7 linked regions of the Homo sapiens genome follow. The protein of the gene in region 1 purifies or fractionates together with the protein of each later gene. This does not show direct contact. Each region holds a gene or a part of one and is shown in the gene's direction. Other genes may lie near its edges.

The links.
Region 2: the proteins of FOXRED2 (region 1) and GALK1 purify together in Homo sapiens (affinity purification with mass spectrometry; one large-scale study listed by BioGRID and IntAct). This does not show direct contact.
Region 3: the proteins of FOXRED2 (region 1) and MCM3AP purify together in Homo sapiens (affinity purification with mass spectrometry; one large-scale study listed by BioGRID and IntAct). This does not show direct contact.
Region 4: the proteins of FOXRED2 (region 1) and RBM45 purify together in Homo sapiens (affinity purification with mass spectrometry; 2 studies listed by BioGRID and IntAct, with this or other methods). This does not show direct contact.
Region 5: the proteins of FOXRED2 (region 1) and CLPB purify together in Homo sapiens (affinity purification with mass spectrometry; one large-scale study listed by BioGRID and IntAct). This does not show direct contact.
Region 6: the proteins of FOXRED2 (region 1) and CHCHD6 purify together in Homo sapiens (affinity purification with mass spectrometry; one large-scale study listed by BioGRID and IntAct). This does not show direct contact.
Region 7: the proteins of FOXRED2 (region 1) and ACTG2 purify together in Homo sapiens (affinity purification with mass spectrometry; one large-scale study listed by BioGRID and IntAct). This does not show direct contact.

Annotation. Positions count from the first base shown.
Region 1 is NC_000022.11:36,486,690-36,490,040, reverse strand, and holds the end of FOXRED2 (FAD-dependent oxidoreductase domain-containing protein 2 isoform 1 precursor), read left to right. Parts: coding exon 1-33; 3' UTR 34-2,851; downstream 2,852-3,351.
Region 2 is NC_000017.11:75,757,394-75,759,793, reverse strand, and holds the end of GALK1 (galactokinase), read left to right. Parts: intron 1-1,194; coding exon 1,195-1,345; intron 1,346-1,421; coding exon 1,422-1,584; intron 1,585-1,666; coding exon 1,667-1,738; 3' UTR 1,739-1,900; downstream 1,901-2,400. Other genes in the region: ITGB4 (integrin beta-4), read right to left, coding at 2,239-2,378. UniProt on the Homo sapiens protein: Catalyzes the transfer of a phosphate from ATP to alpha-D-galactose and participates in the first committed step in the catabolism of galactose.
Region 3 is NC_000021.9:46,234,633-46,237,622, reverse strand, and holds the end of MCM3AP (germinal-center associated nuclear protein), read left to right. Parts: intron 1-643; coding exon 644-794; intron 795-1,296; exon of another isoform or gene 1,297-1,399; intron 1,400-2,196; coding exon 2,197-2,355; 3' UTR 2,356-2,490; downstream 2,491-2,990.
Region 4 is NC_000002.12:178,122,437-178,125,936, forward strand, and holds part of RBM45 (RNA-binding protein 45), read left to right. Parts: intron 1-1,085; coding exon 1,086-1,215; intron 1,216-1,391; coding exon 1,392-1,476; intron 1,477-1,690; coding exon 1,691-1,854; intron 1,855-3,500. UniProt on the Homo sapiens protein: RNA-binding protein with binding specificity for poly(C). May play an important role in neural development.
Region 5 is NC_000011.10:72,295,032-72,298,531, reverse strand, and holds part of CLPB (mitochondrial disaggregase), read left to right. Parts: intron 1-2,883; coding exon 2,884-3,040; intron 3,041-3,500. UniProt on the Homo sapiens protein: Functions as a regulatory ATPase and participates in secretion/protein trafficking process. Has ATP-dependent protein disaggregase activity and is required to maintain the solubility of key mitochondrial proteins.
Region 6 is NC_000003.12:126,724,740-126,728,239, forward strand, and holds part of CHCHD6 (MICOS complex subunit MIC25), read left to right. Parts: intron 1-2,338; coding exon 2,339-2,447; intron 2,448-3,500. UniProt on the Homo sapiens protein: Component of the MICOS complex, a large protein complex of the mitochondrial inner membrane that plays crucial roles in the maintenance of crista junctions, inner membrane architecture, and formation of contact sites to the outer membrane.
Region 7 is NC_000002.12:73,913,508-73,917,007, forward strand, and holds part of ACTG2 (actin, gamma-enteric smooth muscle isoform 1 precursor), read left to right. Parts: coding exon 1-139; intron 140-1,172; coding exon 1,173-1,364; intron 1,365-3,076; coding exon 3,077-3,258; intron 3,259-3,500. UniProt on the Homo sapiens protein: Actins are highly conserved proteins that are involved in various types of cell motility and are ubiquitously expressed in all eukaryotic cells.

The DNA of each region.
Region 1 (3,351 bases):
CAGTCCGTCGATAGCAACAAAGAGGAGCTCTGACTGTCCCTTCCTAAGCTGTGGGCACAGTGGCCAGGCCTCCCCACCTAGGCCCATGGTCAGTCCCTCTTTCCCCGCAACCTCACACTCCCGCCAATGCGTGATTGCCAAAGACCACTCAGATCATGGCAGTGTCTGCAGCAAAGCCACCAGATGGCACGTGAGGGCTGAAAGTCGGGGATGCGGTGGTCTCCTCCCTCCTGTCAGGGGGCAGAAGGGCATCCTCTGCCAGGTGGGAGCTGCCTTCCCCAGCCCAGTTTGTCTGCAATGGAGCTGTCGCTGAGCCCCAGGCCAGCCCAGTTCTGCCCCGTCTCAAGTGCTCCTCTTCCTTCCAAGCCCCTCCTCAGATGGGCCTGCATCCCGCCTGTGGAGTGCTTCACAGGGGAAACCCATCCGCATCTTAAGAGTTTGTGGCAAGCGCTTTAAAACAAAAGCTCTGATATCCTCAACAACCACAATGGGCAGGTGGGATTGTTGCCCCAGATGACTGCTGAAGACACCAGCTGTGGGATGTCAAGTAATTCCAGGGACCCCCAGCTGGGAGTCCCCGTCTGTGTCACTTGCCACACACTGCCTCAACCTCCCCGCCCCATTTTCAGCAGGGTTTGGGCTTAGCTACAGAGCCCAAGAGGGTCAGCCCTGCTTATCATCATAGGCCCAGCAGGCTGATCTCGAGCAGCGATAGGACAGCTCCCTGCAAAGCCATCTTAGCAACTTTCTCACTGAGAAGCAGGATTCAGAGCTGCTCTCCCCAGTTGCACCCCCTGACTCATCTTCCAGCTGGCTCTTCTCTCCCATCCTACTCCCTTCTGTCTCCCTGCCCTCTGCCATCCTGAACCATGCCTTGCTTCTAACCTGCCTGGTCAAGTTTTGTGAAACTTATCCTGCTGTCTCGGGCTGGCACCCATATGTGCTCACCATGTGTAAGGTGACATTTCCAAATGCCTTTGTGTGATAATGATGATGAATTTGGTTCCTAGTCTCTTCTTCATTGCCCTTCCTCACCAGCAATCTGCACTTTCCCATCAGGCGTCTTAGTCTCATTTGTAAGTGCATAAGATAATCACAGTGATTTTTCAAAGCCCAGGATCATAAGTGATTGCTTTTTCACTGGTTCTTACTAACTCTTCATGTATCCACTCAGAATTCCAAGGACAATCCCAGCACTCTGGGAGGCCCAGGCAGGTGGATCACCTGAGGTCAGGAGTTTGAGACCAGCCTGACCAACATGGAGAAACCCTATCTCTACTAAAAATACAAAACTAGCCAGGCGTGGTAGCACATGTCTATAATCCCAGCTACTGGAGAGGCTGAGGCAGGAGAATCACTTAAACCCGGGAGGCAGAGGTTGCAGTGAGCCGAGATTGCGCCATTGCACTCCAGCCTAGGTAACAAGAGGGAAACTCCATCTCAAAAAATAAGTTAATTAAATTAAATTAAAATAAAACATGCGCTGGGTACAGTTGCTTACACCTGTAATCCCAGCACTTTGGGAGGCCAAAGTGGGCCGATCACCTGAGCTCAGGAATTCGAGACCAGCCTGGCCAACATAGCAAAACCTTGTCTCTACTAACGGTAAAAAAAATTAGCTGGGCATGGTGGAGCATGCCTGTCATCCCAGCTACTTGGGAAGCTGAGGCAGGAGAATTGCTTGAACCTGGGAGGTGGAGGTTGCAGTGAGCAGAGACCGAGCCACTGTACTCCAGCCTAGGTGACAAAGCAAGACCCACAGTAAAGCCCCCACACCCCATCTCAAAAAAATAAAAAATAAAAAAGAACAAAGTATGCTACAACAAAAGTGAAAAGAGAAAAAGAATTCCAAGAACCCGGGCTTTCTGGATCCAAAGCTCTTTCATGGGGACGTCCTCTTCCCCTCTTGGCTTGGTCCAGACTTTTTCTTTTTCTTTTTTTTTTTTTTTGCAATGGATTTCGCTCTTGTCACCCAGGCTGGAGTGCAATGGCACGATGTCGGCTCACTGCAACTTCTGCCTCCCGGGTCTAAACAATTCTCTTCCCTCAACCTCCCAAGTAGCTGGGATTACAAGCGCCTGCCACCACGCCCAGCTAATTTTTGTATTTTTAGTAGAGACAGGGTTTCACCACATTGGCCAGGCTGGTCTCGAACTCCTGACCTCAGGTGATCCACCTGTCTTGGCCTCCTAAAGTGTTGGGATTACAGGCATGAGCCACCACGCTCGGCCCAGTCCAGACTTTTTAACTACCTGGCCCCACTGCAGACACAGTTCCCTCTAGTCCTTCCCAGAGTTACAAGAAGAGAACTCCAGTAGCCTTATTCTGTCAGGGACGAATTGTTTACCCCATGATAATGTAGGATATCATAAATTCTTCTTCAAAGGTTTTAGCCTGTAATTTGTTAAGTACATTGAGTTCTGAGATCCTCTCCAAAGAACCAATGTATCAGTATGTTCAGCTCACCTGTTCTTTGTTCTTCATTTTAACTTTTAATTTCCTCATTCTTTATGTCTCCTTGCCCCTAGTTTCAGTAAACAATCCCCTCCTAGCCTCTGTCACCTGCTCTGACCTGAGTCACCTTTAGTCACCTGGTCCGTAACCATCTTTCCTGTCTAAACTTCTCACCCCACCACTCTGGCTTATACCCCTGCTCTCTTTAAAATAGCCAGTCAGAATTAGCTTAGATTGTGCGGTCCAACCCTAGCCCATAGGGGAACAACACAGCAGTAGGGGGTACCTGCATCAGGGATAAGAACCCATTCCCCTCCCTTGTTCCGGTGTGCTCTCGCCATTGCACCATCCATGAGACGCACTCTTGTATAGAAGTAAAATTGCCTTGCTGAGAAAATGTATGTTTGAGTGCTATTTCTTTTGTGGCACTGAAAATTTATTTCTAACAAATTTGGGGTCTCATTTGGGATTCCCATCCTCCTCTGAGGAGGGTCTAGACCTCTCCCATGAGGAGGCACGTCCCACTGCCTTGTTGCGGTGGCCACAGGGGTAAGGAATCGAGACCAACCAGTGTGACGAATAAACCTATACTCTCAGCAAGGCAGAAAGAAACGGGCTGGCGACCTGGGGGAAAGGATCCTCATGTACCACAGCGACCAAGTAAGTGTGCAGAGACCAAGCTAAGAAACATCGCAGGGGTGACAAAGTATTTCCTTGGTGGTCAGGATATTCTGGGGGTTGAAAGTGTGCATGAATGCAAGGAGCCTCCAGCAGGTGGGGCTAAAGGATAGGCGAGACATCTCCAACAGGGGAGATTGAGCTTAACCAGGACCCAAGATGGGAAATGCCCCAAGTAAGGTAAGAGATAAAAAGGAGAAAGCTAGCAACAGTAATATT
Region 2 (2,400 bases), on another chromosome or scaffold:
CGAGGGACCTCCCTGTCCTTTTCCTTTGTGAACTGTGTCACGTTCTCCAGAGCAGTGCTCAGACCTGCCCTGCCTGCTCTGTGCAGATGCCCTTGGCCAAGGTTTTCACACTGGAACAAGTTGGTCCCTCCTCCCCACCCCAGCCTGTCCTTGCCCCTCCTCCAGGTCTCCTTCTGCATAGGAGCAGCTCACCCTGCCTCCTCCAGAGTCCTGCCCTAGAAGCGCAATCCCTCTCCTTCCATCCCCTGCCTGGCTGCCTGGCTCCTTCCCTCAGCCTCCAAGACATGCTCAGTTTTCTTCCCTCCTAAAACACCACCCACTGTCTCATTTCCATTCATTTCTTTCTTTCTTTCTTTCTTTTTTTTTGAGAGGGAGCCTCACTCTGTCACCCAGGCTGAAGTGCAGTGGCATGATCTCCACTCACTGCAACCTCCGCCTCCCAGGTTCAAGCAATTCTCCTGCCTCAGCCTCCTGAGTAGCTGCGATTACAGGCGCCTGCCACGATGCCCGGCTAACTTTTGTATTTTTAGTAGAGACGGGGTTTCGCCATGTTGGCCAGGCTGGTCTCGAGCTCCTGACCTCAGGCAATCTGCCTGCCTCAGCTTCCCAAAGTGCTGGGATTACAGGTGTGAGCCACCGCGCCCACCCATTCATTTCTCAGTCCTTTGAATCTACTTGCCCCTCCATCCCGCCATGCCACCTACCCTAACAACCTTCCCCCTTAAACCTGCGGGTTTGGCCGGGCGCAGTACACTGAGTCAGTACTGGTACTGACCCAGGTACCCCTCCAGCCTCAGCTCCAGTCAGATGGGACAGCCTGCTGGTCCCTGGCTGCTTCTGCCCCCTCTTCTGGAGCCCCAGCCCTGGAGGCTCCATGTGGCTCAGCAGAACTTCTTCTCCTCCTGCTCTGTGGTGGCCTCTTGAGGGCAGCACTCACCTTGGAAAGCATGGAGTGTTTCAACCCTCACTGCTCCCTGAAGGACCAAGGTGTCCCATTTTACAGTCGGGGGAGGAGGCACTGTGATAAAGGGGCTCTTCAGACCCACGTCTGAGAGAGCCAGGCTGCCCTGCCCCCGCGGCCTTCCACCCTTCACCGTCCAGCCAGGGCCACTGCCATCACCGCCTGCTGGTCCTCACAGGCGTCGGGGCCCCAGGCAGTGAGAAGGCGGCTGCTGACTCCTCTTTCCTCCCCAGCTGCCAGGGACCTGGTGAGCAAAGAGGGCTTCCGGCGGGCCCGGCACGTGGTGGGGGAGATTCGGCGCACGGCCCAGGCAGCGGCCGCCCTGAGACGTGGCGACTACAGAGCCTTTGGCCGCCTCATGGTGGAGAGCCACCGCTCACTCAGGTGAGGCCCTCTGGGCGCCCCGCTCCTGCCGGGCACAGGCCGGCCCAGGCCCACCCCTTCAATATCCTCTCTGCAGAGACGACTATGAGGTGAGCTGCCCAGAGCTGGACCAGCTGGTGGAGGCTGCGCTTGCTGTGCCTGGGGTTTATGGCAGCCGCATGACGGGCGGTGGCTTCGGTGGCTGCACGGTGACACTGCTGGAGGCCTCCGCTGCTCCCCACGCCATGCGGCACATCCAGGTGGGCGGGCACCAGGGCCTGGGCGGGCAGGAGCGGCAGCTTCCCGGGGCCCTGCCACTCACCCCCAGCCCGCCTCTTACAGGAGCACTACGGCGGGACTGCCACCTTCTACCTCTCTCAAGCAGCCGATGGAGCCAAGGTGCTGTGCTTGTGAGGCACCCCCAGGACAGCACACGGTGAGGGTGCGGGGCCTGCAGGCCAGTCCCACGGCTCTGTGCCCGGTGCCATCTTCCATATCCGGGTGCTCAATAAACTTGTGCCTCCAATGTGGTACCTGCCTCCTCTAGAGGTGGGTGTATGCTTGGGTGTCAGAGAATGGGGGATGTCAGAACCGCTCCCCTACCCTAGGGGAGCACCTCTCAGGCCCCAGAAGAATGGGCAAGGCAGGGCCTAGCAGTAGCAAAACCATTTATTAAGTGCAGAACAAAGGCTGGGTCCTTGTGCTGCTCCCAGCTCTTTGGTTACAAATAGGTTTGGGCCCACAGAGGACGGACCTTGCCCCCTTCATGCCTCCCAGGAGACACCTAGCCCCTGCTCTGTGCATGCGGGTGGGCTGGGCCCCCAGGGGTGCAAGGATGGAGTAGCTGAGGAGGCTCCGGGAGAGGAGTCGGGAGGACGCCTAGTGGGACGTGGCGGGGGTGGGGCAGGGTGCGGTCAAGTTTGGAAGAACTGTTGGTCCATGTGGGTGCTAAGGGTTCCGCTGGTGGTCAGTGTCCGGCTCACAAACTCCTGGGTCACATGCCGGGTGAGGGAGCCGCCTGCCTCCAGGTGCTGGGCCCCCAGGGTCAGCCCATCTGTGGAGGAGGAGGCATTAGA
Region 3 (2,990 bases), on another chromosome or scaffold:
GAGTTGTAGACTAGCCTGACAATACAGCAAAATCCCGTTTCTACAAAAAAATACAAAAATTAGCTGGGTGGCATGCGCCTCTAGTCCCAGGTATTTGGGAGGCTGAGGTGAGATCATTTGAGCTTGGGAGGTCAAGGTTGCAGTGAGCCAAGATTGTAACACTGCACTCCGGCCTGGCCAACAGAGCGAGACCTTGTCAAAAAAAAATAATAATAAAATTGGCCAAGCACAGTGGCTCACTCCTGTAATCCCAGCACTTTGGGAGGCCGAGGTGGGTGGATCACCTGAGGTCAGGAGTTCAAGACCAGCTTGGGCAATATGGTGAAACCCCATCTCTACTAAAAGTACAAAAAATTAGCTGGGCACAGTGGCACTTGCCTATAATCCCAGCTACTCAGGAGGCTGACGCAGGAGAATCACTTGAACCTGGGAGGCAGAGGTTGCACTGACCCGAGATTATGCCACTGCACTCCAGCCTGGGCAACAGAGTGAGACTCTGTCTCAAAAAAAAAAAAAAAAAAATTATATAAAATTTTAAAAAAGCAAAGGCTTAAAAAGTTTTTAAGTATATATAGAAGATTAATGAACAATAGTTAACTTCCTAATGCTCAAATATTTTTGAATTTATTACATATTGTTTCAGGTTTGAAGATCAGCTTCAGCAATGGTTGTCTGAAGACTCAGGAGCATTTACGGATTTAACTTCCCTTCCCCTCTATCTTCCTCAGACTCTAGTGTCTCTTTCTCACACTATTGAACCTGTGATGAAAACATCTGTAACTACTAGCCCACAGGTGAGAAGAACGTATACATTTGGCATTTACATAAGAATTAAAGATTGAGAGAATGGCTGGGGAAAAAAGTAATATCACGATTTATCCTATGATGTTTTGATGACCGACAAATTATTAGCTCAAATTAGACCTTTTCTTAAACTTTATCCATATCATTGTTAAAGAGACCCAACTGATTTTGAGTTTCTGCCTACGAAATAAATGAAGAATAGAATTGAAATATTCTTAAGAACTGAATAAGACCTGTAACTGTGTGCTGATGTGTAATTAAGGGCATTAAGGTGATGACAGCAGCTTCTGTTGGAGCACATATTGTCTGAGCTTTGGCATTACCCAGACCTCTCTTCTGGGATTAATTTTTCCTGAGGAAAACTAATGAATGAGGAAGGTAAGCTCCCAGAAGTCAAGAGCCTCACCCAAGAGTGTTCAAGTAGTGAGTGGTCAGGTTGCTTTTCAAAGCCAGATCCAACTGGCTCCAAAGCCTAAGGTCTTTTTACCTTACCATTCTTCCTTCAGTGGTTAAAGATGCAAAAACAGAGTTTCAATCACAGATATGTGCCACTGAACAGGTAAAAACTGTGCTCCTGGACTGGCTTTAGGAAGTCCTTCAATAGAGGAGAAAAGCAAATTAAAATGATGTACTGTTTCCATTCATCAGTTTGGCAAATACTTTAAAAATATTCATACCCTTTGAATTACCAATTCTAACCTAAAGAATTCTGACCTACCAGATATTCCCCAAAAATTAATGTATAAAAATGTTTACTGTAGCATTATTGTATGAAAGTCGAAACAGAATAAATATCCGAAGATGGGAGTCTGATTAAACAATTATAACACATTCATGTGATAGAATAATTCACAGCCCTTGACGATGATATTTTCTAAAAATGACTGGCTGGGCGTGGTGGCTCATGCCTGTAATCCCAGCACTTTGGGAGGCTGATGAGGGAGGATCGCTTAAGTCCAGGAGCTTGAGTCCAGCCTGGGCAACATAAAGAGATCTCATCTCTACAGTACATAATTAGCCAGGCATGGTGCTACATGCCTGTTGTCCCAGCTACTCAGGAGGCTGAGCTGGTAGGATCACTTGAGCCCAGGAGTTTGAGGCTGCAGTAAGCTCCGATCATACCACTGCGTTCCAGCCTGGGTGAAAAATGACTGACACTGGAAATTGTTCATGATAGAATACAAAGGCAAACAGTCTATATACAGATACCAGCTGAATGTACGAGCTAAATGAGGCTGGAAGGATATACAAAGGATAATTTTTTTCCCTCTGTAAAAATAAATGACTACTCAGATGAGGTTTCTAACATGATCCAGATCTAGTACCTTCCCAGAGATAGGTCGTGGTTTATTGACATCCCAAAACTGTTCAGTTTCTTTTTTATTCAAATAGAGTGACATGATGAGGGAGCAACTGCAGCTGTCAGAGGCGACAGGAACGTGTCTAGGCGAACGACTAAAGCACCTGGAAAGGCTGATCCGGAGTTCAAGGGAAGAGGAAGTTGCCTCTGAGCTCCATCTCTCTGCGCTGCTAGACATGGTGGACATTTGAGCAGCCTGACCTGTGGGGAGGGGGTCTCTCCCGAAGAGTTTCTGTTTTTACTCAAAATAATGTTATTCTCAGATGCTTGATGCACTGTTGGAAATGTGATTAATTTAATCATGCAGATAAACCATTTAAATGTCAGTCTCCCAGTTTTTCATAATGAAAAGTTGTTTCCCCTGTGTGACCTCTTCAATATTCTCCTATATTCATGACCTCCTCAGATTGTCACCCACCAGCATATGCTCTGAGGCAGTTTAGAGCTTACATTTCCATGTATAAAAGGCGATTCATTCTCTCAGCAAACTTGCAGTCCTTGATGTGCCAGACATCAGTGATGCAGAGATAAAGTAAGACACAGGGCCTCTGCCTGCTAAGCCCACCCAGCTTACATCCAGGAGAGTCAGGTACTTATGTACATAATTCTCAGAGAATGTGCATGAGGCGTGGGCCTGAATTGGTAGCAAGGAAAAAACAGAGGATGGAACAGGGTCTGGTTGGGTAGAGGAGAAACAGAATTCCCGGAGAGGAGTGCAGGGGTGTAGCTGGAGACAGTGTACTTGAGAGGACATGATGAAAGCGTGGAGGTACCAGCTTGGTTGTGTGGCCAGGTGAGGGGAACAGGCCAGCAGGGTGAGGTCAGA
Region 4 (3,500 bases), on another chromosome or scaffold:
AGTACCCAACCCAGCACTAGTCTTTTTGTAGAACTGTCTTTGAGCCATCCCCAGTCTTAACCCGATCATATGCGTCATTCTCTGTTCTAAGACTTCTAGGCACACATTTTTGTGTTCTCTGGCACATTTGTTATATGCATATGAAGTTGTGTTCATTTTGTTTTGTTCCCTCCCTTTTATCTGGTATGTCAAAATGTATTTGTTCCTGTACCTCCTGTTTTGTTTCTCTGGTTGGATGTGTCTGAAATATATGTGTCATTGGAACATCTTTTTATTAATAGAGGTGTCATCATATAGTTCGAATCTCATTTGAATTAACTTTATATGGTCATTTGATTTCTGTGTTTTATTTTAATTTCATTAAAATGTTGGATGCTTGGGTTTCCAGATGAACATAAATTATAAGTGTTTCCCCAGTGGTTTGTATTATAAAAGTGAAAACCTTTTAGTTGTGTCACAAACTCCTGGGCTCTCTAAGGAATGCATTATAACATTGTCCCTCCCTTCAACATCACCCTCCTAAATTGAAATTCGTCCCTTTGGCAGAAATCTCTCCAAAGGAAAGTAAAATATATCACTTGTGATCTGAGATCCTCTGTTCCCTATCTTTTTGTTTTTCATTCAAATCACTTTTCCTCTCCCTACTGCTGCAGATAGCCGGGATGAGTATATATTCTTTTCAACTATCACTTCTCATTTCATTTCCTACCCAGTATGGTTGGGAAAATCTTAAAATTTCAAAGTAGATTTCAAAGAATAAAAATTTAGACTTTTAAGTATATTGGTATCATATAAGAAAAGCTAGTATCCTAAAACTAAACTTATTAGACAGGACGTATGTTAATATTCCATTTTCCCTAAAATATCATGTTCATATTTTTCCCTAAATTATTTCTTCCTTTTCTAGGAATACACCTGTTGCACACATGATAACAGAACTGTGTTTTCTGATACATTCGATTCTGTATTTACTAGTTGTGTGATATTAGAGTTCTACATGGTTTCATTTTTGTGATAGATTGTAACATAGGCCTTAGGCACTCAGTCTGCTTTCCTTTTTCATTTCTGTATGTTCTCTATTTTAGGTCATGGAGTGGTTCAGTATTTTAATGTAGCATCAGCTATTTATGCAAAATACAAATTACATGGATTTCAGTACCCTCCTGGGAACCGAATAGGTGTTTCCTTCATTGATGATGGAAGTAATGCAACAGAGTAAGTACCATTCCAGGAGTGTCTAAAGCCGAGCTTTGAGTGTACATGATTGATAGGACTTGAAGAATAAAAATAGAAACAATTGACCTCTCAGGTGAGAAAGTCACACAAAACAAGCTACTGTTAAAAGACTGAATATTTTTAGTTTTCTGTAAATTATCAGTTATTTTTTCCAGTCTCCTTAGAAAAATGGCAACACAGATGGTAGCTGCACAGCTTGCATCAATGGTGTGGAATAACCCAAGTCAGCAACAATTTATGGTAAGTAGGTAAGAATTTAACCTTTATAATATATCAATAGCATATAAAATAAATGTGAAGAGAAATCATGCTTTGTTGATTATCTGTGTATGAAAATTTTCAGAGCTATTGTGGAAGACCACATAGATGCCATGATACATATCTGTCTTTAGCTCTTGGCCAAAAATCCCTAAAGGGCATTTTTTTCTTTTTCTTGTTTTCTACCTGTTAACAGCAATTTGGAGGAAGCTCTGGATCACAGTTGCCTCAAATCCAGACAGATGTTGTACTTCCATCATGCAAAAAAAAAGCTCCTGCTGAAACTCCTGTGAAAGAAAGACTTTTTATTGTGTTTAATCCTCATCCTTTACCTTTAGACGTATTAGAAGATATATTCTGGTAAGAAAGTTACATTTTTTGTTATATTTTATTTACACTAGTAATTTAATTATTCTTATAATCTAGACACTTCCTTCACCCAGTACCTATCAAGTAGAGAGTATTAGTTCTCTGCTTTTAAAACCTCCTTATTTGTATCATCTTTTTCAATTTCTGATTATTTTCTTCTCTTGTTTATCAGTCACACATCCTAAGGCTCCATAGAGAATTTCCTGCTATTTTGTTTTTGAAACATAAAGTGGGCCTGGTGCAGTGGCTCATGCCTGTAATCCCAACACTTTGGGAGGCCGAGGTCAGGGGATCGCTTGAGCTCAGGAGTTCAAGACCAGACTGGGCAATATGGCAAAACCCCATCTCTACAAAAAATACAAGAATTAGCCAGGCATGGTGGTACATGCCTGTGGTCGCAGATACTTGGGAGGCTAAGGTGGCAGGATTGCTTTTGCCCAGGAGGTCGAGGTTGCAGTGAGCCAAGATTGTGCTACTGTACTCCAGCCTGGGTGACAGAGTGAGACCCTTTTTGTTTTTTGTGTTTTTTTTGCTAAGCATCTTCTGTTTTGTTGGTGCATTGTAGGATCCTTAAGGGTTATGCAGTCGCATTGTGTAAACAATTACTTGATTGTAGGGAAAAATACATAAATGTTTTTTATAATAAAAAAGGGAAGGTTCTTATTTATTTTTGTGTTTTTAACATAACTCCTTTCTTTGCTTTTTCTTTTAGGCCTTTTTCCCATTTGCCTTACAAGAATGTTAGTGAATTTGATAGACAGGAAGCTTGTTAAAGAGCTGCACAAAATATCAGGGACATAATGTGATAGTATATTGAGGCTCAAAAGGAAAAAAATATCAGGATATGGTTCAAGTATTTTGACCTTTATTTAACTGATATATTTAGTTTTCTTCTTGAACCTCCTCTTTGTTCAAGGCAGGAACTGTGCTAAGTACAAGAGACATGTAAACAAAATATTAAATGGACAAGACATTATGATTCTTGTCCTCTTAGAGCTGATCTCATGTAGGAAACAGACAAGTAAACAGAAAATTACAACCCAGGGTGATTGTTGCTGTGATAAGGAATGTGTAAGATACAAAGGAGGAGCAGTTACCTTAGAAACTCTGAGAAGCCTTGAAAGAAGGAAGGTGTATGTGGAGACCTGAAGTATAAAAATAATTTCTCCACAGGTGAAAGCTGGGGGTATGCATGGTTATTTCTGCCATAGAGAATGTAAAAGAAGGGCTGTTAAATAGGGAATTTGAGAGATTGTTAAGGAAGATGAAACTAAAGAGTCCAAGGACAATGTCAGAACGGCTCTAGAGCTATATTAAGGAATTTGTTGTCACCATGGAGGCAATGGGGAGCTGCTGAGGGGACTTTTAGGGAGTAAATGATCATATTTATGTTTTAGAAAGATCACTCAGAAGACAGAGTGAAAAATGGATTGAAGAGGGACAAGCTCAGGGGTAAGGAAACTAGTGAAAAAGGAGTTAGATTAAGGAAAAGATGATGGTCTGAATGAGAAGAGAGATCTGAATGAGAATGAATAGAATTGACTGAGATGTTTAAGATTGACATGAGTTGGATGTTGGATCTGGGGAGAAGGGTGAAAATGGAGTCAAGAATGGACTCCAAATTTTAGACCTGAGCA
Region 5 (3,500 bases), on another chromosome or scaffold:
AGCCAGACCCTGTCTCAAAAACAAAAAAGAGCCAACCAAAAGAATGTGGCTCATTCATTTATTCATGAGGCGCTGTGTGGGGTAGAGGGGACACTGACAAAACAGATGCAGCCCTGGCCTTGGCGTGACCAATGAGTGCGGAGACAGGCAGCTAAAAAGTAGTTCAGTCCACTGTGGTCGGTGCTGCGCTAGGGACAAGCAGCAAGTGCCAGGAGTTGTAGGGGCACCTAATCCAGGCTGGAGGTGTGAGGGAAGCAGCCTCACCCCTACCCAGTCTAGTTCTCCCAAGCCTGGGCCCAGAAAAGTAAGAACCCTATTGCTCTCATCAAAGCACCAAGCAGGTCTACTGCTGGCCACTCACAGGTGACCCCAGGGCAGAAGTCCCAGAAAGAGACTAGTCCCCAGAGAGCCCAGCCCCCACTCCTCCCACCAAGGAGTCATACGTGAGACAGTGGGAAAGCAGCCCCATAACCCTGGGGTGAGCATTCAAGCCCCACCCAAGATGTGCACGCTCTGGTTGTTAGAGGGAGGTGAGGCACGGACAGCTTCCTGTTTGAGACACATCTTTATTGCTAAGGAAACTGAGGAGGAGACATGAGCACTGAAAGTCACCCTTTGGGTCAGTCATGCACTGCACCTGCTCCCCTCACCCACCTGGGACCCATCCTCAGGCCCAGTTATGAGCAGAGCTTTGATCTCTGAGAATGAAATTGCTGCTAGGTTATTGCTCTGGCCAGTATAGCAGTGTGTGAACCCAGTCCTTAGGGATGAGCTCTGCAAAGTGAGTATGGAACACACACACAGTCATATGCACATGCTTGGACATGTCACACACACACACACACACACACACACACACACACACACACACACACACACACACACACACACACACCTGGTCCCCAAAACTAGAACTGCCCTCAGTGGATCTGTTAGATTAGAACCCATAAGCAGTGGGGTAAGAGTGAAAAGCTGCTGGTAAAAGCTCAAGGACATCTGCTTGCACCCTTGCTTCCCTTTTCCTGCCCCAAGGCAGGGACAGCAGAGTGACCAGCTCCAGGATGTGGATTACCAGGCCCCTTGTGTATAGACCCTTTGGGAATTAACAGTTTCTCAAAGGCCTCTGCCAAGGTCCAGTGGAAAGCAAGGCTGGAAACTACACCCAGCATGCAGTAAGCTAGCTCGGTTGATGCACAGTCCTTTCTCCTTTGCTCCTAAGGAGTAGGACTGGGTTTACCATTACACTGGCTTTAGAAGCAAGGGCTAACCCTGAAGCTCGGGCAGGGCCCAGCATCCCTGGCTCAGGCAGGAGCCAACAGGCTGAGGTCAGTGATGTATATCCCCAGAGCCACGGTTTCTGGCTTGGCGGGAGCTGTGCTTTCTCTGCTTCCCAAAAGAAATCTCAGGTAGATCTCCTCCCTAGCACCTGTCCCAGTTGCATCTCTCCAGTGAGGATCAAACTGAATTTGGCAGAATTCTGAGAAAATTCTGTCGAAGGAAAGAAAATAGCACGAGGCCTCATTCATCCAGCACCATTGGTCTGACCTCTGTAGCCTGGTGCAGAGGAAGGGCATGGGCTCTGAGGTCAGATAGTTCAAGTCTCGCCTCTACTGTATCCTAGCTGTGAAACCTCGAACAAGTTATGATCCTCTCTGAGCCTCAGTTTCTTTGTAGGGGTCCTAACTGCACCTACCTCCAAGGGTGGATGTGAAGATTCCAGCCTCCAGCAAGCAGGTGTCAAACACCTACTCTGTACCGGACGCTGTTCTGGGACACAGTGATGAACAAGACCCAGCCTCTGTTGTCAAGGAGCCACTTTCCTAGTAGAAGGAGTGGGGTTGTACACAAAAAGCACTAAGCAGAGCATCTGTGATGAAAGTAGAAGTCCCTGTCCGTGTTCGGCATTGTCACTCTATTGCTTGCTCTCAAGGAGTCCCTGATCATTGCTTTTGTTATAAATGACATAAAGTGCTGTTGTACGGTCATGCCCTTGAGGTTCGCTGAGTGAGCGGGGCTCTGTACCCTTCAACTGATTGGTCCCAGAACACTGTACTTTTATCATTCTTCTGTCTCTGCCCTATACTGTTTGCTCCTTTTCTCCTTCTTTGGTGCATCTTTCTCCAGTATAGATGCCTCCTTTGTCCCTTCTAGAAAGAGCTGAAGATTCCAAGGAAACTTCCCAAGGTGGTTAAAGAAGCAATCTCATTTTTTATCCCTGTTAGGCCAGGCGGCAGCTCCAAAGATAAAAGAGGTTGTCCTGTTTCATTATATATCACCTACTACAGTAATAATAGCTCTGAACATTTGAACAGCATGGTTTACTAAGAATTTTCACCAGATAACCACATCTAGTCCTGACAGTAGCCATGTAAAGTACCCTCCTCTGAATTCCTGCAGCATGCTGGGCTTCCCTTTATTATCATACGTAACATATTGGATGGTCAGTGCTTGTTTCCTGTATCTCACTGCTTCTCTATACTGGGAGCATGTTGTAGGCTCAGTGGGACCCCAGTACCCCACCACAGATCCTGGCCCACAGCGGGCCTCCAAAAAATGTGTTGGTTGCACAAATGAATGGCTAACTGTGACTGACTTCTGCATGCCAGGGATAGTTGGGTGCCCCAAGAGATGCCAGAGAGCAACTGCAGCCTCACCTGGAGGCACTCAGTAGGGAGAGCAGTTGCAGCGCAGGGCGGTGAGCACAGCAGCCAAGGTGCAAGTCTAGTGCTCGGAGAACCCAGAGGAGGAAGCAGCTGGCTGCTGGGGCTGGAGGGAGACACAGGGCTCTGGGGAGGCCTCCTGAAGGAGGTGAGAACTGAGAGTGCTAAGGCCTGCCCAGGCACATAGCTCCCTGACTGTACACTCCCTTCCTTCCCTTCCCAGGGCCGGCTGACAGATGGAAAAGGGAAGACCATTGATTGCAAGGACGCCATCTTCATCATGACCTCCAATGTGGCCAGCGACGAGATCGCACAGCACGCGCTGCAGCTGAGGCAGGAAGCTTTGGAGATGAGCCGTAACCGTATTGCCGAAAACCTGGGTATGGCGGCTGACCTGAGCAGTCTGGTCCAGTGACCAAGCCACCAGCCTATCTCCTGGGGAAGGATGGGATTGGGGCCCTGGGCCCAGGTGAAGGTTCTAGTGGGCAGCTCTGTCCCTAGCTGACACTGAGCAGATATCAGACACCATACCAAGTAGTGGGGGTTGAGACAAAAGAGACAGAGACCCCACTTCAAGAAAGCCTCAAGTCTGTTGGGTGATAAGAGGGCTCCAGGCAGGAATGGACAGAGCTACACCAGGGTGGGGGGCCAGAAGCTGCTCAGTGTCTTAGGGGACTGAGGAGATGCACATGCAAGAGACACAGATGCTTTGGTGCAAGAAGGGGACAGCAGATCGAAAACTCTATGGCAGTGGACACAGCCTTGTTCACCCAGGGCAGCTTCCTGCGTAGGTGGGCCATGGAGAGTGCTGAAAAAAAGGAGCACATCCGGCAGGAAGCT
Region 6 (3,500 bases), on another chromosome or scaffold:
ACTAAGTTTATGATCCTATTCTAAATCCTTTGTTGTCATTTCAGCAGTGTTCACAGCATCTTCACCAGGAGCAGATTCCATCTCAAGAAACCACTTTCTTTCCTCATCCATAAGAAGCAACTCCTCATCTGTTCAAATTTGATCCTGAGATTGCAGCAATTCAGTCACATCCTCAGGCTCCACTTCTAATTCTACTTCTCTTGCTGTTTCCACAACATCTGCAGTGACTTCTCCATTGAAGTCTTGAACCCCTCAGAGTCATCCATGAGGGTTGGAATCTACTTCTTTTAGACTCCTATTAATATTGATTTTTTGACCTCTTCCCATGAATCATGAATGTTCTTAATGGCATCAGAATAGTGAGTCCTTTCCTTGGAGTTCTCAGTTTACTTTTCCCAGGTCCATCAGAGGAGTCACTATGTATGGCAGCTCTAAGCTTATAAATGAATTTCTTAAATAATAAGACTTGAAAGTAAAAATTACTCCTTGATCCATGGGCTACAGAATGGATGCTGTGTTAGGAGGCATGAAAATAACATTCATCTTGTACATCTCCATCAGAGCTTTTGGGTGACCAGGTGCATTGTCAAGGAGCAGTAATATTTTGAATGGATTCTTTTTTGCTGAGCAGTAGGTCTCAACAGTGGGCTTAAAGTATTCAGTAAAACATGTTGTAAACAGATGTTCTGTCATCTAGACTCTGTTGTTCCATTTCTAGAGCACTGGCAGAGTAGATTGAATATCATTCTTAAAGGCCCTAGAGTTTTCAGAAGGCTAAATGAACATTGGCTTCCATTAAAAGTCACCAACTGCATTACCCCCTAACAAGAGAGTCAGCCTGTCCTTTGAAGGTTTGAAGCCAGGCATTGATTTCTCCCCTCTAGCTATGAAAGTCTTAGATGGCATCTTTTCCCAGTAGAAGACTGTTCTGTTTAGTATTGCTACCTTCATCAATGATCTTACATAGATCTTCTGGATAACTTGCTGCAGCCTCTCCATCAGCACTTGCTGCTTCACCTTGCACTTTTATGTTATGGAGATGGTGTCTTTACTTAAGTCTTATGAACCAACCTTGGCTCACTTCAGTCTTTTCTTCTGCAGCTTCCTCACCTCTCTCAGCCTTGACTGAATTGAAAAGAGAGAGAGCCTTGGGCTTGATTAGGCTTTTGCTTAAGGGAATACGGTGGCTGGTTTGATCTTCTATCCAGACCACTAAAACTTTTTCCATATCAGCAGTGAGTCCGTTTCACTTTCTTACCATTCATGTGTTCACAGGAGTAGCACATGTAACTTCTTTCAACAACTTTTCCTAACTTGGCTAACTGTTAGGTGCAACAGGCCTAGCTCTCGGCCTATCTTAGCTTTCGACATGCCTTCCTCACTAAGCTTAATCATTTGTAGTTTTTAATTTAAAGTGAGAGACATGGGACTTTTCATTTGAACACTTAGAGGCCATTGCAGGGTTATTAATTGGCCTAATTTTGTTGTGTCTCAGGGGATAGAAAGGCCCAAGGAGAGGGAGAGAGACAGGGGTCGGGGAATGGCTCATTGCTGGAGCCATCAGAACACAACAGCATTTATCGGTTAAGTTCGCCGTCTTACATGGACAATGTTCTCAGTGTCCCAAAACAATTACAAGAGTAACATGAAATGTCACTGATCACAGATCACTGTAACAGATATAACAATGAAAAAGCTTCAAGTATCATGAGAATTATCAAAACATGACTGAGAGACACAAAGTACATGCTGTTGGAAAGACAGCACCAGTAGACTTGCCTGATGCAGGCTTGCCACAGACCTTCAACTTGTAAAAAAAAAAATGTGTTATCTGCAAAGTGGAATAAAGAGAAATGTGATAGAAGGAGGTACCTGTGCTTCACTTGCATGCTGTCGAGGAGCAGCCTTCCCTGGAGAAGGGGACATTGAGATACCTCCAAAGAAAGGATATGATTTGGATGGGTGGAGATGTCCCAGAGAGGGAGGTGGTGGGCTGGAGGTGGTTCAGAGGGAAGAGCATGCCTGAATTCAGAAGAGGTGAGAAAAGTGAGACATCAGGTTCCCCTGAGGACTGGGTGTGTGGAGGGAAGTGGTGGGGGTAAAGCCGCAAAGCCAGCAGGGGACATATATTGGTAGGCTTGGGAATCCGGATGGGCTCAGCATGGACCTGGTAGGCACTGGGCCACCACGAGAGGAGTTTTAGTAGAATTGCTTTGTTGGAGTTGGTCTTGAGGAAGCAGCGCATTCAGTAAATCTGGGGCCTGAATAAAGAGGAGGCTTTGCTTCCAGGCACTTCTGTGACATAACTTTTTCTTTTCCCTCTTTTCTGCTTCCTTAGCTGTCTGAAAACGTGGTGAACCGCATGAAGGAGCCCAGCTCTCCACCCCCTGCTCCCACATCTTCTACCTTTGGCCTTCAAGATGGCAACTTGAGAGCCCCTCACAAAGGTATGGGGATTGTGACAGTTCTGTGGAGTGTGGAGAGACAGTGAAAGGAGTGATGGGTGCTCACCCGAGCCCACCTGATGGCGCACAGGGCTCAGGTTGGCTTCTGGATGACGTTAAGCAGCTCTGTCTGGTAAGGGCTTTCCGGAAGAGCATGGCTTTCTGGGAGTGATGGGGCTGTCATCAGAGCTGCCGGGATTCGGGTCGGACCACCTTCCCTCTGTGCCACTTTCTCCATGTGGGAATTGAGGCAGAAGGACCTGAGTTGACAGCTCAGGAAAGAAGTTGCCTTTAAGGCTCCTCAGAGGCGGCATAGCCATGACTCAGCTTCAGCCACTCTAGCCTAACTCCCAAGTCAAAGAATGATGTGGATTCACGTGAACAGGGCCAAGTATAGGAGAATTCCGTCAGTGATTTAGGCGCCTACCGCAGCAGCCCTCACCTGAGCCTCAGGCCGAGAGCTCCTGTCCTGGCCCTTGGAATGGTTCCCTCTGGGCTTCTAGGAGGGGTCCTAGGAGTTCCTCTTCCTGGCCCACTGTGAAGCTGGTGCTCAAGCCGGGCTCAAAGCTGATTTGTTCCCTACTGTATTGTGCGTGTTGCAAATGAAGAAATTTGTGCTTTCCCCAAATAACGACTTGTAGCAAACACAAGGAAATAAAATTTTAAGGAAAAAAGTTCTAAGGCATACAAATGTTAAAATATTACAAAATAAAAAAGTCCTTGGAGCAACTGCTCAAAACATACTTGTTTTTGAGAACTTGGGTCTGTCTATCAGATTCCGTAACTCAATTAAAAAAAAAAAAAGATTGGCTGGAGGCAGCATGCCACCACGGAAGGACCGACTGTTCAGGTGGATAACCACCCACTAGATTGTTCTTCTTGGGCCTGGTCTCGCGTTACAGTTGCCTTTTCTACTCATCTTCCCTGTTGGGTTGAAAGAGTTTAGAATATGAGAGCTGTATCCTGCCCACTTAGTGTTTACTGAAGGCCACCCAGAACCAAGTCCTGTGCCCTGTGCCAAGACACAGTGATAGGTGGGCAGGGACCCTCTCTCAT
Region 7 (3,500 bases), on another chromosome or scaffold:
GGCGTCACCCACAATGTCCCCATCTATGAAGGCTATGCCCTGCCCCATGCCATCATGCGCCTGGACTTGGCTGGCCGTGACCTCACGGACTACCTCATGAAGATCCTCACAGAGAGAGGCTATTCCTTTGTGACCACAGGTATCCAGCCCCTTTTCTGATTCTGACTGGAGCTCAGAACCAATCTGGTTTAGGACAAGAAGTTCTCAGGACCAATGAGAATTCTGTGACTCTGTGTCTTTAAACTCTCCTGAGATAGACTGAGAGGCCTTAAGCTGGGGCTAGGCCTCTGGATAAGACCAGATAGTCATGGAAGCAGTCCCTCCTTCCCCAGAGACCAGCTGCCTCTGTCCACGTCCACACCAGGACTAGGGCTAGTTTCCACAGGCTGAATGGTAGTGAAGATCTGCTGATGCATTTCATTACCTAGGGGCACCTTTGGTTTGAGGACAAATTGAATAAGTGAGGCCCGAATTTCTAAGGGGAAGGTGTCATGTGGCCCACCTGGGCAATCGGCATTTTTTAGGTGGGAGCCTCTCTAGGTTCTGTAAGATCAAACATCTGAGTCTAGACCAGAAATATGTCCTGCAAAGCCCCCAGGAAGGCCTAAGGCTTTGTCAGAAATCTCATGCAAAGTCCTGCATGGGAATCAAGACTTGAGACTCCCTCTTTAGAAAGAGGAGTGGAAGAATTAAGATTGAATGGAGTGACGCTTGACCCTCTTCGCGGCAAGTCTATCATCATCCTATGACTGAACCTAAAGTAGACGTGAGGCCAGGCGTGGTGGCTCACGCCTGTAATCCCAGTACTTTGGGAGGCCAAGCAGGCAGATCACTTGAGGTCAGGAGTTCTAGACCAGCCTGGCCAACATGGTGAAATCCTGTCTCTACTGAAAACACAAAAATTAGCCGAGCTTAGTGGCGCACGCCTGTAATTCCAGCTACTTGGGAGGCTGAGGCAGGAGAATTGCTTGAACTCAGGAGGTAGAGGTTGCAGTGAGCCAAGATAGCACCACTGCACTTCAGTCTGGGTGACAGAGTGAGACTCTGTCTCAAAAAAAAAAAAAAAAAAAGAATAAAGTAGATGTGAGAAGGAGGTTTTCATGGAGATCAAAATGGGACAACCAAACTATCAGAGCTCAGTATTCACCTTCTGTCATTTCTGCTCCTTCCAGCTGAGAGAGAAATTGTGCGAGACATCAAGGAGAAGCTGTGCTATGTGGCCCTGGATTTTGAGAATGAGATGGCCACAGCAGCTTCCTCTTCCTCCCTGGAGAAGAGCTATGAGCTGCCAGATGGGCAGGTTATCACCATTGGCAATGAGCGCTTCCGCTGCCCTGAGACCCTCTTCCAGCCTTCCTTTATTGGTGAGGTGCTGCCCACAGTCCCTGCCAATCTCAGGAGGGGAGGGTGGAGGAGTGGGTGAGGTATGGAGAGAGAAACACCAGGAGTCATGGCCACTTTGTTAATTACATACACGTACCTCACATTTTCCTAGGAAGGGCCAAAAATGTATTTTAAAAAAAATTAGGGAAAAATCTCATTTTAAATAAAAGGGAAAGGAAATCAAGATACAGGAAAAGCAGAACAGGAAATATAACATGAAACTTAAGAATGAGGTTAAAACACAGAAAGTTTGTAGGCAGCAATGTAGCAAGGTCAGGTTGTAGTTTAGCAAGATTCTTCTATCTACAGTGTGGAATCATATTGCATGGATAAAAGACCGGAGGCTTGGCCAGGCGCGGTGGCTCACGCCTGTAATCCCAGCACTTTGGGAGGCTGAGGCAGGCAGATCACTTGAGCCTGTGAGTTTGAGACCAGACTGGGCAACATAGCGAAACCCCATCTCTATGAAAAATACAAAATTTAGCAGGGCATGGTGGTGCATGCCCATGGTCCCAGATACTCAGGAGGCTGAGGTGGGAGAATCGCTTGAGCCGCAGAGATCAAGGCTGCAGTGAGCCGTGATTGTGTCACTGCACTCCAGCCTGGGCAACAGGGTGAGATTCTGTCTCAAAAAAAAAAAAAAAAAAGAGTAGAGGTAAGTAGACCAGGCAGATGGCAAGAGCCAGTTTGGCGTGCAGGACCTTTTGCTCTAGAAGACTGTGATGCCAGGCTACAGTAGCTGGATGTCAACCTGCAGGCAATGGGTGACTGTCAGATGACATGACGAGTATATCCATACAATGGAATCTTATTTGGCAATAAAAGGGAATGAAGTATTGATCCATGCTGTGACCTTGAAAACATTATACTAAGTGAAAGGAGCCACACACAGAAGACCATATGGTGTATGATTCCATTGACAAGAAACATCCAGAATAGGCAAACCTCTAAAGACAGAAAGTGGATTCACTGTTACCTAGGGCTGGGGCAGGGATGGAGGGGAAAATGGGGAGTGACCGCTATTAGGTATGGGGGTCTCTTTTGAAGGTATTTAAAATGTTCTAAAATTAGATTTTGGTGATGTTTGCTTCTGTGGATATACTGAAAATGACTGAATTATATCTCAAAAAGTTATGAAAAAAGAAAGATGATATAACAAAAGTGTTCCTTTAGAAATATGCTTCAGGCAACAGTATAAAAGATCAGGCCGGGTGTAATACCTCGCGCCTGTAATCCCAGCACTTTGGGAGGCCGAGATGAGTGGATCACAAGGTCAGGAGATGGAGACCATCCTGGTCAACATGGTGAAACCCCATCTCTACTAAAAATACAAAATTTAGCTGGGCGTGGTGGCATGTGCTTGTAATCCCAGCTACTCGGGAGGCTGAGACATGAGAATCACTTGAACCAGGGATCAGAGGTTGCAGTGAGCTGAGATCGCGCCACTGCACTCCAGCCTGGTGACAGAGCAGACTCCATCTCAGAAAAAAAAAAAAAAAAGATCAATCAGAACTGGGGACAATAAAGGAAAGGCCATGACAAGGAAGGGGGTATGATCTTATAATCCTTCTGGGAGATATTAAGGTTCTGAACTAGGGTAGTTGCAACAATCGAAGAAGGGTCATTTGAGGAGCTGGAGGTGTGCATATTTAGGAAGTGATGCCTGTTGACCAGACACTGTGATCTCCACTAGGCATGGAGTCCGCTGGAATTCATGAGACAACCTACAATTCCATCATGAAGTGTGACATTGACATCCGTAAGGACTTATATGCCAACAATGTCCTCTCTGGGGGCACCACCATGTACCCTGGCATTGCTGACAGGATGCAGAAGGAGATCACAGCCCTGGCCCCCAGCACCATGAAGATCAAGGTGGGTCTTGCCTCAGTTGTCTCCATCCTGTTCTTTGTATAAAGTCTTGCCTACCTGGGAGTTCCTCGGAGGCAGACTGCCAGACCTGATAACTTGCTGGTCTCCTGGGTTCAATATCATCCTGGACTGGAGCCAATTTTATCCTACGGAATTATGTTCCTTGGGCATTGATGGGCTGAAGACCCACTTAGCATGGATCTCAAACATAATCCCAGGAATGTCACATGAGAAGAGGCTGAAAG